2 linked regions of the Homo sapiens genome follow. The protein of the gene in region 1 interacts with the protein of each later gene in a pairwise test. Each region holds a gene or a part of one and is shown on either strand. Other genes may lie near its edges.

Evidence for each region. The genes of interacting proteins can lie anywhere in the genome.
Region 2: the proteins of ZBP1 (region 1) and KRR1 interact in binary tests that used the Homo sapiens proteins (3 or more experiments, as listed by UniProt).

Annotation. Positions count from the first base shown.
Region 1 is NC_000020.11:57,610,421-57,617,444, forward strand, and holds part of ZBP1 (Z-DNA-binding protein 1), read right to left. Parts: intron 6,049-7,024; coding exon 5,824-6,048; intron 5,161-5,823; coding exon 5,092-5,160; intron 4,641-5,091; coding exon 4,467-4,640; intron 2,911-4,466; coding exon 2,743-2,910; coding exon of another isoform or gene 2,666-2,742; exon of another isoform or gene 2,471-2,665; intron 1,665-2,470; coding exon of another isoform or gene 1,648-1,664; exon of another isoform or gene 1,511-1,647; coding exon 1,307-1,510; intron 276-1,306; coding exon of another isoform or gene 113-275; intron 1-112.
Region 2 is NC_000012.12:75,508,601-75,515,443, forward strand, and holds the start of KRR1 (KRR1 small subunit processome component homolog), read right to left. Parts: upstream 3,010-6,843; 5' UTR 2,998-3,009; coding exon 2,913-2,997; exon of another isoform or gene 2,878-2,912; intron 1-2,877. UniProt on the Homo sapiens protein: Part of the small subunit (SSU) processome, first precursor of the small eukaryotic ribosomal subunit.

The DNA.
Region 1 (7,024 bases):
GGAACCCTGACCCCCAGCCTGGTTCACCCTCCTCCCCAGATCTCCCACCAGTGGCCCACACCATCCCAGGAGCACAGCCTGTGCCTGCCCGCCACACCTCCACCCGCCACACCTCCGCTCGTGCTGTTGTGCTGTCTGGGAAGCGTCTTTCTGCTCCACTGATCCCGCAGTGGGTCTGCCCCACTGATCCCGCCCGGCTGATCTGGACGTCAGTGTCTTCCTCTGGGATTCAGCTCCTCTCTCCTCTGCTGCCTGCTTCCCACTGCACTGGAACACTGGCCCCCACTTTTGGTTGAAATCTTATGGGGGCTCCCAGCCTGGCCCCAGCTCCTGCCATCTGGCTCTGCCCTTTCCCACCCAAACTTCTGAAGAATCATCCACACTGAGTCCCGCCCCCTCCACCCCCGAGACCTCTTCTGCTCCCTGGCCCCCAGAAACCACCCCCTCAAGGTTACCACGATCCCTCTCGCTGAACCCCACAGATGCTTCCCTGGTCTCACCAGCCTGGCCCCTCTCTGGAGACTCCTTTCCCGGGGCCTCTGCTTTCCTCCTCCCTCTCTGGCTTCTCTGCTGGTTCTTCTCCCCCAGCCCATCTCTGCATTCCCAGTGTGGGGGAGGCCTCTGCCTGGGGCCCTCTGGTCACTGCAGCCACAGCTCCTAGTACGGCACCTGTCTTCCATCCTCCCTAAACACCATTCCAGTCTCAAACCATCACCCTGCTCCAGTTGGCCCAGCCTCTGCTTCTCTGCTCATTTTACAAATGAGGAAACTGAGGTTTCCTGCAGTGGGTCGTAGGGGATGGGGATCCAGAGTGCTAGCTTTATTTTATTCATTTATTTATTGAGATGGAGTCTCACTCTGTCACCCAGACTGGAGTGCAGTGGTGCGATCTCCGTTTACTGCAACCTCTGCCTCCCAGGTTCAAGCAATTCTCCTACCTCAGCCTTCCGAGTGGCTAGGACTACAGGCGCAAGCCACCATGCCCGGTTAATTTTTTTTTTTTTTTTTTTTGTATTTTTGATAGAGACGTTTTACCATATTGGTCAGGCTGGTCTCGAACTCCTGACCTCAGGTGATCCACCCGCTTTGGCTTCCCAAAGTGCTACGATTACAGGTGTGAGCTCCCGCGCCCAGCCTAGAGTGCTAGCTTTAAAAGCCCCACCTGCTCTACTCTGGTTCAGCTGCCTGGTGGAAGGAAAGGAATTTCCCATCATGCTTCTCTTCCCAAAAAGATTCTGGCTCCAGTTCCTTCCAGTGAGGACCCACGGGGTGGCAGAGTTGGGTCTGGCCTCTAGATCCCAGTTACCTGGGGGGCTGCCAGGGGGGATGTGGGCAGGGCCCTCGGACGGGACGCCGTGGAGCCTCATCTCATTGCTGTGTCCCAGCTGCACCCGTCTCAGTATGGACTGCTCCATGTGGATGTCCTGGGGCCCCCAGGGATCAACTAGGGTCCCCCAAGTTGAGGAATCACCTGGTGCCATTGAAGGGAGGTGGCGTGGACCGGCGGAACCTGGCAGGGGACAGTGGCACAGCCTCACCGGAGATTACTGCAGGCTTCTTCCTTTCCCTCACCACCACACGCAGGCCTGTCCTCTGAATTCTTCCTGGACACCATCGAACTGGCGGCCAAAGACTTCAGGCTCTGGCTTAGAGAGCAAGAGGACCTGGCGGAATAGCTCATTTTGGGGCTCCCTGAGTTCTCAGGAGCGGGGCTGGTCCTGGGTGTTGCAGGGACACTCACAAACCCAAACAATGAGCTCCTTGTTCTGATTCCCAGTCACTCCCGAGCCTTCTGACCTCATGGGGACCAAGTCTCGTTTGGTGCCAACACCAAAGGCTCAGAGCCTCCCGCAGTGTTTTAACTGCCAGGGACAACATTTATTTTTATGGTGTTTTTCATGATTTACACTTAAAATAATACTATAAAATTGTTTTAAAATAAATTTTTAAAAAGGTGCACTACTCAACAACATTAATTAAATAATCAGACATGGGTATGGCCAGAATCAGGAAGGTGGGGCTCAGAAGATTAAAGCTAGGGAAACCATGATCTAGATTCTAGAACAAGGTTCCTCATTTCACAACTGAGGCTGACAGTGGGGAAAGGTTCTCCCAAGGTTACAGGGAGTGTCCCGACTTTGGGGCTGATGCTGTCACTCACAGGTGACAAGGCTGGGCTGACAGGTGGCTCTGTCCCCTCTTGCCACAGTGCCCGGCACAGGGTAAGTGCTCAAAGTGCAACACCGCATTTCATCCAAACTAGGATGCCACAGGTGGTGAGATGCACCCCAGTTTCCAGCCTGTTAAAATGTGGGGGAAAGTAGCGTGTCTCAGAACAAATACGGTACTACAATAACCTCCCCTGTAGCATTCCGCGGAGGGAAAGGCAATTGAGTTGTTTCTCATGAAAAACACCGGACCCCATTGAAAATGAGGCATAAGGTCAGGCGCAACACAGAGATACCCCATCTTAATTTTAAAATTTTATTAGAAAAATAAAAATTAAATTAAACTTTAAAATGAGGTAGAAAGTATCAGAGTACAGGGAAATCAGGAGAGCTTTGATCCAGGTGTCCTCATTCTCAGGACGGCCGTAAAGGTGGACTGTGGGGGTCTGGAAGCAACCCTTTCCCCTTGGAGGGCAGAATCCCCCCACTCCCCATCCCTACCCTTTGCCCCCACCCAGAGGATCCGGTGGCTCCCCACCGAGGTCCCCTCCCTGGGCTCTCTTGGGTGACTTACCGTCCTCCCTGGAGACTGTCTGTCTTGTAATGATGTTCCCGTGTCCAATCTGGATGGCTTCGGAGTTTGCAATGGAAATCCAGCTGTTGGGTCCATTCTGGCAGATCATGTTGATTGGATTGTGCTGGTAAATAATTGAGGCTGACTTTGCTCTTCTTCCAGAATCTTCTGCAAAATAATATTCAACTGTATCCCTTTGCCACTGTCTATGGGTCAGGGGTTCCCAATACCAGTCGGCAGCACCAAATTCTCCTGGGGAGCTTGTTAAAATACCCTGGGCGTTCCGAGTCAGTAGGGCCAAGTGGGAGGCCAGAGCTGGGTGTTTAACAGACACCACAGGTACCTCAGAGGGAGCCTCACTTGAAAATAGCCACTGTGAGTCACCCTACCTGTGTCTTTTGCTGCCTCCATGGCTGGGCCGCCATGATTGCTGGCTGGGAGGACCGCAGGGGCCCCACACTGCTCTCCCTAGGGGGCAGCCACAGCCCGGACCCCCGAGCACCTGCACCATTGCCCTTTTCCCTTGAGTAATGGCCGAGAAACAGCAGCCCATTGGGCCAGATCGGTCGTGTTTGGCTCCCATGACATTTTCAATATTTGAATTTGTCACTAGTGTTTAAAATCTGGTGGCTGTCACGCGTTATTCCTTCCTCACAGCAGCCCTAGGATGCTGAGACCCCCTCGGGCACCCGTCATGAGTAGCAGAGTCAGCCCTGCAGAGGTTGAGGCAGGCACCTGCCCAGACTGTGCGGGGCCCATCACCACCCTCCAGGGTCTCAGCTCCTGTGCCTTTGTGGGCCCTTCCCCCATACACAAATATTTAAATTACATTGTATAGCAAGGATAACCCAGGCTGGATTTTTAAATTTTATTTTATTTTATTTTTTGGGGGACAGAGTTTTGCTTTTGTTGCCCAGGCTGGAGTGCAATGGCGCGATCTCAGCTCAGTGCAACCTCTGCCTCCTAGGTTCAAGCTATTCTCTTACCTCAGCCTCCCGAGTAGCTGGGATTACAGGCGCCCACCACCACACCTGGCTAATTTTTGTATTTTTAGTAGAGACGGGGTTTCGCCATGTTGGCCAGACTGGTCACTCCTGACCTCAGGTGATCTGCCCGCCTCAGCCTCCCAAAGTGCTAGGATTACAGGCGTGAGCAACCGTGCCTGGCCCATTTTTAGATATTCATTATTATTGTAGTATTCATTTCCTCTGATTTTAAATGAAATTAAAATTAAAACATTTTCAAGGACCCCTGAGAATGCCATGCACCTATTGGATCTTGGCCCTGTGTGTGTTAGGTCTCACGGGGAAGCTGACCCTGCGCTGACCCTGGGGCTCCAGCCGGTAGGGGTCCAAGACTAGTCTTGCCTTCTCTTCTGCCAACTTTTAAACCCCAACTTGAGCAAAGTGCTCAAAGAAAACCATTCCCAAACTCAGACTGATCCCTGCACCCCAGAGCTGAGAACATTGGGAATGGGCCACCTCCGTCCCATTCACTGGCCTTCTGCAACTGCAGACCTTGGGCCACGCCTCCAAAAAGCTGTCCCTGGTTAATCTTGCCAGCACACCCCTTCCTCCTGGAAGCCCTTGCAGTGAATTGTCGGTAGGACCTCCAGAAGCTTCTAGCAGTTTCCGGTGAGCTGCTCAGCAGAGCACCCAGCAAAGACCAAGCACTAGTGTCATGGTTTCCCTCTGCAGCCCAGACACAGGCAGCCGGGGGCCTACCTGGGCGGTAAATCGTCCATGCTTTGGACTGCTCATCCATGTCCAGAAGGTGCCTGCTCTTCATCCTGTACAAGTCTCGGTTCACATCTTTTGCTGTCCTCATTCCCAGTGCTTGGGCGATGACCAGGGCCCTCTGGGGACCATTGTCTTTGAGAAACCTGTAGATGTCTTCCTCTGGGAGGCAGGATGGCCAGGTGGTTAGGGAGTAGTCCTAGGGTTTGCATCTGCCCCACCGCTTCCTAGCTGTGTGGCCCTGGACCCAGCCCCTCAAGGCCTGGTTTCCTCATCTGTAAAATGGGTGTCATGATAACGGGGTCATCATGACGCACCGCAGAGGTGCCCTGAGGGTGGGGGATGTGCACAGAGTGCTCTGCGCTGGGCCTGGCATGTGGCGGGTGCATGGTGAGGGTCAGCTATTGTCTGACTGGAGAAATCACTGCTCAGCCATTCAGATTCTCCCACTGTGAGGGCTGGGTCTTGGCTCTGAACACTGTATGGGAGCTGCCTGGTGGGTGGGACAGGGCCCCTGAACACTGGTGAGATCTTGTACCCTCAAGGAGGGCCTGGGGTTCCTGGGGAGTGGGATCCTGTGTCCCGGGAACTGAAGGGACATGCAAAAACTTACCCCGTTGTTGGCTGAACTGAGGGCCAGGGGTCTCTGGAATTGTAGCTGCATGTTGCTGGGGCCTCTCGGCTGCAGAAAGAAAGATGGGTCAGAGGGGTGGGGGACAGAAGACAGCACCAGGCCTCCACCCCACAAAGGTGGGCAGCTCCCTAGGGGTAAGTGGCAATGCCGGTAGTTGCAAACTCAGACTCCAGAGTTCAACACACTTGACTTCAAATCCTGCCTGCGCCCTGGCAGCTGCGGCTTCCTGCCGATTAACTTCTCCGGGGCTCAGCCTCCTTTGCCTCCTGGGGTTGTGTGAGGGCTGGGTGAACCCCAAAACAGTGCCTGGCTAATCTTAAGTGCATGATAAATGGCAGCTCCTTCTGGCTGTGGGCTGTAAAGCTAGAAAAGGGGGGCTGGTGGGACTGCATATGTTCTGTGATTGGGACCATGGCGTCATTGCTGTCTCCATCATGATGATTTTCTATTATAATTGTTAGTGTTCTGCAGAGTACCTCCTGTGTGCAGGGCTGGGCTGAGCCTGACGCAGGGCCTCCTCTCAGCAACCCCTACCAAGCAGCCCTGCTGTGAGCTCCATCAACCAGAAAAAGAAACCAAGGCACAGAGAGAGGAAACCTGTGAGCTCCCATGTGGCAGAGTTCAGATTCGAACCCAGGCTCAAATCTGTGCTTGTCCATTGCCAGGATGCTCCCTGCAGGGTCAGACCCGCCTCCCCGGGGTGGCAGTTACCAGGGCTGGACAAGGCCAGCTCTGCAGGACCCTCGCCTTCAGGATCAGTCCCGCCCAAGCACCAGGTGGCAGGGGATGTGAGGGAGACTTTCAACTCCTTTTTCATTCGGTAGAGGACTTGGTTGAGCTCCCTCTTGGGTGCTTGGCATTCCTTCACCAGCTGGGCAAGTTTCACCGGGGAGCCAGCCTCTGTCAGCACCTGCAGGATTCTTTGTTCAAGGTGGCCTGGGGGAGCGAGCGGGGGACAGAGAGGGGAACTGAGTCTCCCAGGTCCCCACAGTTGAGCCCAGGCTGGAGGCTCCAGGAGGCACGTAGGCCCCTTTTTGAGAGGGGTCCAGGGCAGAGGAAAGGGCAAGGACCCCAGCAGATGCCCCCTAAGAGCAGTAGGGCAGCTGCATCTGCCCAGAGGGAGGCATGCAGGCTGATCAGAAACGGCCTTGGCTGCGCAGCCTGGTGGCCAGGGGAGGTGCCACCTCGCCTGTGCCCTCCCCGGGTGTGGGTTCCAGAGGGCAGTGGGGTTCCTCAGCTCTCAGGTGTCCTCAGGGCAGAGGGGAGTAGAGGGCAGAAGGACGGAGCCAGAGGGAGGCAGGGGGACCTGGGAGCGCAAAGGCAAGTCCTGCCTGGGACGCCTGCCTGGGTTTACCTGATGCCCATCGCCATCCTCCCCGGGAGTGCCCTCCTCTCAGCTCACCATCCATCCATGGCGCCACTATCCATCCAAGCCAGAGACCGACCAGACATCAGAAACAGACCTTTCCCCCAGTGCCCAGTCGTGGAGCCCTGGAAATGCCATTCCTGGATTCTCTGGAATCCCCCCACTCCTCTCTTTTCTGCCAGCACCACCCCCTTCCTCTTCACCATCTCCTAGGTACAGTGATAGGCTCCCCGTTGGCCCGCCAGCTCCAGTCAGGTACCCTCCAGATCTGGCTCTGCCAACCACCCAGCTTGGCCTGCACCTGCCCCCAACTTCCCTCCAAGTGCTGGCCTGTCTGTGCTCCCTTCAGCCCCACTCTCCCCAGCCCCTTTGTGCACACTGTTCCTGCTGCCAGGAGCACCCTTCCCTCACGCCCCAACCTGTATGATGTCTACTCAACCTCCAGGCCTCCTCAGATGCCACTTCCTAGGGAAAGCCTGTCTCTGTGTCCCAGAGTGGCTGGGACGCTGCTTGTGTGTGGGTCCCCTGCAGAACTTCCCCTAGTGT
Region 2 (6,843 bases), on another chromosome or scaffold:
TATTATTCAAGAGTCAAAGAACGTTCCTCTGTCATTATCATCAATTCTCTGTATTAAAATTATCTGTACACATTTCAGTTGCCTCATATGACAAAGTTCCTTAAGAGCAGAAACCCTCTTCACACTAGTTGGCATATGCCAGGCAGATAGTGAGTACTCCAGAAACATGTACTGCACTACACTATCATAAAATTGAAGATTTGAATGCCATTTTGGTTAGTATTTTAAATACAATTAACCTTTCTGACTTTCCTGGAGTGTATGGAATCTGGATGTATGTGTTTGTGTAAAACTTCTGAAAGAGAATTCTAGTTTATCTTTCAGTTAATAATCACTGGTAATTCTAGATTTTCCTAAGCATTTTGAGTGCCTTATTTCCATACGCCTTTCATCGTAACTATAAAAGGTAGAATCTGTATTATTATTCTCATTTTATAGAAGATGGTCTAAAAAGGTTAAGTGACTTGCCTAAGGGAACACAAAGCTCACTCAGCCTGGGACTCCTTTCACTACAAGAAAATGCCTCCTAAGGGCCGTAAATTATCTTCTGAATCATTTATTTAAAAAACTCTTGATCTTGAATTTGAAGAACTCCTTAATTTCAATAGCTATACTCTAATTCAGTTATACTCAAAGGTATGATCCATAGACTTGCAGTATCAGCACAAACTGTAAGTCTGTCAGAAATGCAATTATTGGGCCCCACTACAGACCTACTGAATGAGAATCTCTTCGACGAGGGACAAGAATCTGTGTTTTACCATGCTCAACAGGAGACTCTTAAGCACGGTAAAGTTTGAAAAACACGTCATTACCCTATGTTAGCAGCCTCAGACAGGTAAACTTTCTGCTTATACTCACATCCACGTTGCTATTTCTGGTTCAAATCACAGACAATTGGCTAGTCTTCATATAAAGGATTCTCCAATGTCCTTTAAAGAACACGAATTCCACAAAAGTGATTACTTATATACTATACACATTTCTTTTTTTTTTTTTTTTTTTAAAGACAGGGCCTCGCTCTGTCACCCAGGCTGGAGTGCAATGGCTCCATCCCAGCTCACTGCAGCCTGGACCTCCTGGACTCAAGCGATCTATTCTCTTGCCTCAGCCTCACAAGTAGCTGGTACTACAGGCATGTGCCATCATGTCCGGCTAATTTTTTTTTTTTTTTTGTAGCGAAAGGGTTTTGCCATGTTGACCAGACTGGTCTCCTGGGCTCAAGCAATCCCCCCTCCTCAGCTTGCCAAAGTGCTGGGATTACAGGTGTGAGTCACTGCAACTAGTTACTTACAATGTTTACCTGACGAAGTCCCTATCCAATTTAAACACTTCAAAGGCTATGGATAATTTTTTTTAAAATCCCCACTACAACCTCAGGAAAAAAACTGACAAAAGAAATACTCAGGAGTTTCACAATTAAGGAAGCCTCAAAACATGTGAAAAGATATGCAACCTCATAGGTGATCAGAAAATGCAAACTAAAACTGCAACCAAATACCATTTCATAACTACCAAAATGACAGAAATTCAAAATTCAGATAACATGTATTCATACTAATGTAAGGCAATGACAACTTTCGTCCACTCCTAGTGGGAACAAAACTGACACTAGCACTTTGGAAAAAAGTTAGCATTACTTACACACACCCTACACTTCAGTGATTCCAATCCTATGTTCACAACCTAGAGAAACCCTTGAACATGTTAACCAGAAGACATGTACAAAGATGTTTTAGCAGTATTGTTTATAATTGCAAGCAATTGGGAACAATCCAAATGTCCACCGATAGTAAAATGAAAAAATAAATTGGGGTATATTCATACAAGGAAACACCACATAACAGTGAAAAGACTAAAACTACACCCGCAAGTATCACCCTGTTTGAAAAACAAAAAGCTAAATCTAAGAAGACACAGAAAAATGCATACGGTCCACTTTCATGTATATAAAATTAAAAAACAGGCTAAATTAAGCCACTTCATGACTACAAGAAGAGGAACAGAATGCAACACAATTCAGGGTGGTTACGTCTGATACAGGAAAAGAGAATATGATCTGAGAGGTGCACGTAAGGGTTTGAGGGGTATGGTAATGCTCTATTTTACTTAGTCTGAATGCTAGTTTCCCGCATGGTTTTATTAAACTCTATATAAGTTGTATCCCCTGCTATGTACGTTACATAATCATTTAATGAGCAACAACAAAGAAACTTTGAATACTTTCCCAATGCATCTAAATTGAGAGTTCAATGTTTTTAACACTTCCTATAAGCCTGGTTGAACAGATCCCCAGGCTATTTATGACTTCTCTATCATTCACACTGAAGAAAACGGGTAAAACCAGACTACAACGCAGGAGTTAACAATTAAAAGGTAACACAACCTAAACAGTAAGGGCTGTGTCGTCTAATATTTTAGCATCTGACAAACAGGAATTGATAATCTTTCAAAATGTCTTTACTGACAAACTAGAGCTAAGGACATGTCGGATAGCTCCTTTCCCCATACCTCACCCCATTATCAGGGTCCACTCTTGTATATCATGACTACCTATTCCCACCTCACCCTATTCCTCATTCCGTCAGTGACTTTCAGCCACCCGCAGGCTTACAAGGTTCTGCGTCGCCCTAGGCATTTTCTTAATACTCATCCTTTTACAAAAGACGTAATCCGCAACAGCTTCGCTTTGGGGACCCTTTAGCAAAAGCAATGAATTAGGAACACCTGGGTGGCACCATATCGGCCAGCCGTTCCTGTGGGCCCAGCCAAAATCTTATCAGCGATTATTCAGGTACTCAACTACACAGTACAGGCTCCAGGTGGTTTTATAAGTCCACGAGGAACGAAAGAAAAAAACATCGCAACTCAACGTACACAAACCCCAGGCTTCGGTTCCCACATAACATCACCTTGGTTCTCCGGCTTCGGCTTCTGGTTACGAAATTCACTTTTTCCAGCGCCTTTTTCTGGCCGCTCCAGCGAGGGAGACGCCATTTGCAAGCTGCTTCCGGTGGCTCCGGAAATGAAACTGTTCTTAAACCCTACCGGCTAAAACGCCTACACTCAAAATGAGTTCCGCGGAACTCAGACGAGGAGATCTGCGCAGTCTCCGTGCGTACGTGCGTTAAGCCCGCGCTTTTACACAAACCACAGCTTCTCCTACGTGGCCAATGAAGAGCCGGAGACTTTCTCCCAGTATGCCCTGAAACCATGGAGTTTGCGTACTGGGACTTGTAGTTTAGCAGGCGGTATAGGCAAATTGGATACTGTTTTATCCGTAGTTTCCTCGTGGCCTCACGGCCTAACCTGGACCATCGGACAGCGGAGTGCTACCAACCTGTCATTGATGTCATTCATTCTTTCGATAAATATTTATATGTTGGCCAAATATGCGCTAGATGTTGGGAGGAAGTACAAATATGAGAATACAATGTATATTGGGCCTCCACTGCAACAAGTGACAGGAATAGCTACTATTTATTGTGAGACTACTTTGTTTCAGTACTTTATTTACATTATTTCTAATTTTAAAAACAGTGACAAAATTAAACTTTTCAAAGTTGTTTCTGATGGTAATCTTCCCGAGTGTTGGTATTTCTCTAAGTCAGAGGGATGGTAATTCAACATCCTGACGTTTCTGAAGTATTTCAACTAGCCTAAGATTTCTCAAAATCTCTAAACTCCTTTTCTACCCCCAACATTACATAGGGCTAAGATGTGTAGAGAGGTTCATCACTAACTACAAATAACTACACTTTTGGAAGTATAAGAGTTCTTCGACATGCCAAATATAAGATTTTTTTAAATTTTGATTTTATTGCTTGCATTTCTAAAATTTTCTGCAGCAAATAGGGAAAGTCTTTGATAGGTTAAATTCCTTGCATTAGTGAAATACACGTTTGTCTGATAAATCCACTCTCGTGTATCTTATACAATAATTTAGGTTTTCATATATGAGATCCAGGTATGAAACAGATTGTTACATATGGACAGAAGAACCCACGACAGAGGGGTTTTTTGTTTTTATCCTGTGAGTTTTATAAATGACAGGGATTTTATCTCTGTTCTTTTAATTTCCTCAAAAAATGATAAATTCCTAAAATAGAACAGATAGCAGCAGGTGAAAGTTATAAAGTGAGGAGTACACCTCATGAAGCAGGTTTTTATCATTCTTATTTTAAGTAACTCAATCACTAATAAGTGGAAGGCCCGTCTTCAAGTTCAGGCAGTTTGACCTAGCAGCTTCAGGGGGCTACTATTCATTAGGAGCTTCAAATGTGTTAGAGGGCTGATAGGGATTAAGGGGAGGGAATAGTCTAGAAATAATATTTGTGTTAAAGCCCTTTATTTTATAGCAAAATTTTCTACATAGGCTTTTCTTCCCATTTACGTGTATATTTTTAATCTTAGTATTGCTATTATTTGAGGAATATTGAGAATATGATGGAGATGGGAAAACGAAAACCCACCCATCCTTTTCTTGGCACTATTGAGTCTGTTTGTAAAACCCAACCTTTTAATTACCATACTATGCAGAGCCCACAGTTCACCTGTCCCTTTTTGAAATTTTTACATCTTTTTCCAAATCATTACTGAAAGGGGTGTAAAAACATGGATAATAATTGAGTTCTAAGATTCTCTAACGTCCTCAAGACCTCCTATTATAGATGACACCACACTAAAACTGTCTGCTTTCCAAAGGAAAAGATTCATCAGGCTCCTACAATAAGTTATTTCAGTATTAAGTGATTCTTTCCCTTCCCTAACTCAAAAGCCCTCATGTTGTCCACCAACTGAATATACAATATAAAAACAATATATGATTGGAAGTTAAGTGAATTTTTTTAAGTCTGTTACTTGCCTTCCAGAACCCATAATCTAACACAAGTTATATCACAGGAATAGGGAGTTATCTTACATATAGGATATAAAAGCTTTTACTAAAAAATGAATCCTGCAACAAAAATCACAAATTAATTTAAAAATATTAATTATAATGACTATTAATCATATACTGAAGGGTATATATAATTATACAGTACTTTTTCCTCTGTGATAATATGAGATAAAATATAGCAAGATACTAATTTGATGCTAGTAGTTATAAGAAGTAATGTATAAAAATTAAATGAATAGAAAATTGCATGAGACTGAGAGGCTGAAGCTTTTCCTTAGTACACATACATTTTTTTTTCAGTTTTAAAACAGACTCTGATGCTTAAATATTGTTACTCATTAACTGAATTTTCATATTTTGGCTTGACAAGCAGGAATAGCACATATATATATACTTACTAAAAATTAAAATTGACAGTCAAATTGAATGAGAACAACGTTTCAACAATTTGCTTAGACTATGTTTTAAGCAATTTTGAAGAAAAATTTTAAAATAAACGTGGTATGGAATAAACAAATTCCGAAATTAATTCGACTAGTTCTTCTAAGAATTAAACATTGTAACCAATATTACATATGAGTAGTTTAAACTTTTAAAACCTCTTAACAATAGTTTCCACATGTGGGAACTATTTGCTCTAGATTCCTTACTTTGGAAAAGAGCAGATCTAATTTCAACATCTTCCAAAAATTCATTAGAATTGAAAGAACAATTTGATTTTAAATAAATATTGAATAATGACTAAAAATTATAAATATTTATTGAATACATATTGAAAATAAATATTGAAAAATCTCCTAAAATCACCTTAGAAGACTATAAACTCAAAAGTGATTATCAAAATGACAGTGTCCAAATTTTCATCTCAATTTCAATGATTCACTGATTATAAAGTATTCAAAATAATAATTTAAAATTTAAAATGATGAGAAATAGGGTAAAAAAATAAAGGATATAAAAGAGGGCAAAATATTCGCAAAACATTTAATGGGTTGATTACAATAATATTCAAGGCGATAAAAAGATGTAAGCAATTCAATCAAAAAATGAGGAAAGCCCGAGGGCAGTGGCTTACGCCTGTAATCCCAGCACTTTGGGAGGCCGAGGCGGGCGGATCACGAGTTCAGGAGATTGAGGCCATTCTGGCTAACACGGTGAAACCCCGTCTCTATTAAAAATTCAAAAAATTAGCGGGGCATGGTGGCACGCACCTGTAGTCCCAGCTACTAGGGAGGCTGAGGCAGGAGAATCGCTTGAATCCAAGAAGCAGATGTTGCAGTGAGCCGAGATCATGCCACTGCACTCCAGCCTGGGTGACAGAGCAAGACTCCATCTCAAAAAAAGAAAAGAAAAACGGAAAATATATTAGTAGATATTTGTGATGGTTAATTTTAAGTGTTAACTTGACTGGGTAATATTGTCCCGATATTTGGGCCTACATTATTATGGATGTTTCTGTGAGAGTACTTTTAGATGAGATTAACATTTAAATCAGTGAACTTTGAGTAAGGTAGATTGTCCTCTATATACTGTGGGTGGTCCTCATCCAATCAGTTGAAGACCTGAATAGAACAAAAACATTGACCTCCCCTGAGAAAGAAGAATTGTGCAGCAGAAGTCCCTTGTACTTGAATTGCAGCATTGTCTTGTCTTTGTCTCCAGCCTGCCAGCCTACCGTGCAGATTTTGGACTCGCCAGCCTCCATAATCATGTGAACCAATTTTTTAAAATAAATAAAAATAAATTACACACACACACACACACACACACACACACACACACACATTGGTTTTGTTTCTCTGGAGAGCCCTAATACAACAATTTATAGTAGAGCTAATCCAAATGACTGACGAACATATGATGTTCAACCTCACTACTGTCAACAAAGTATACAGACTTAACAATGAAATATCACTTCTCACCCACCAGATTGAAAAAAAAGA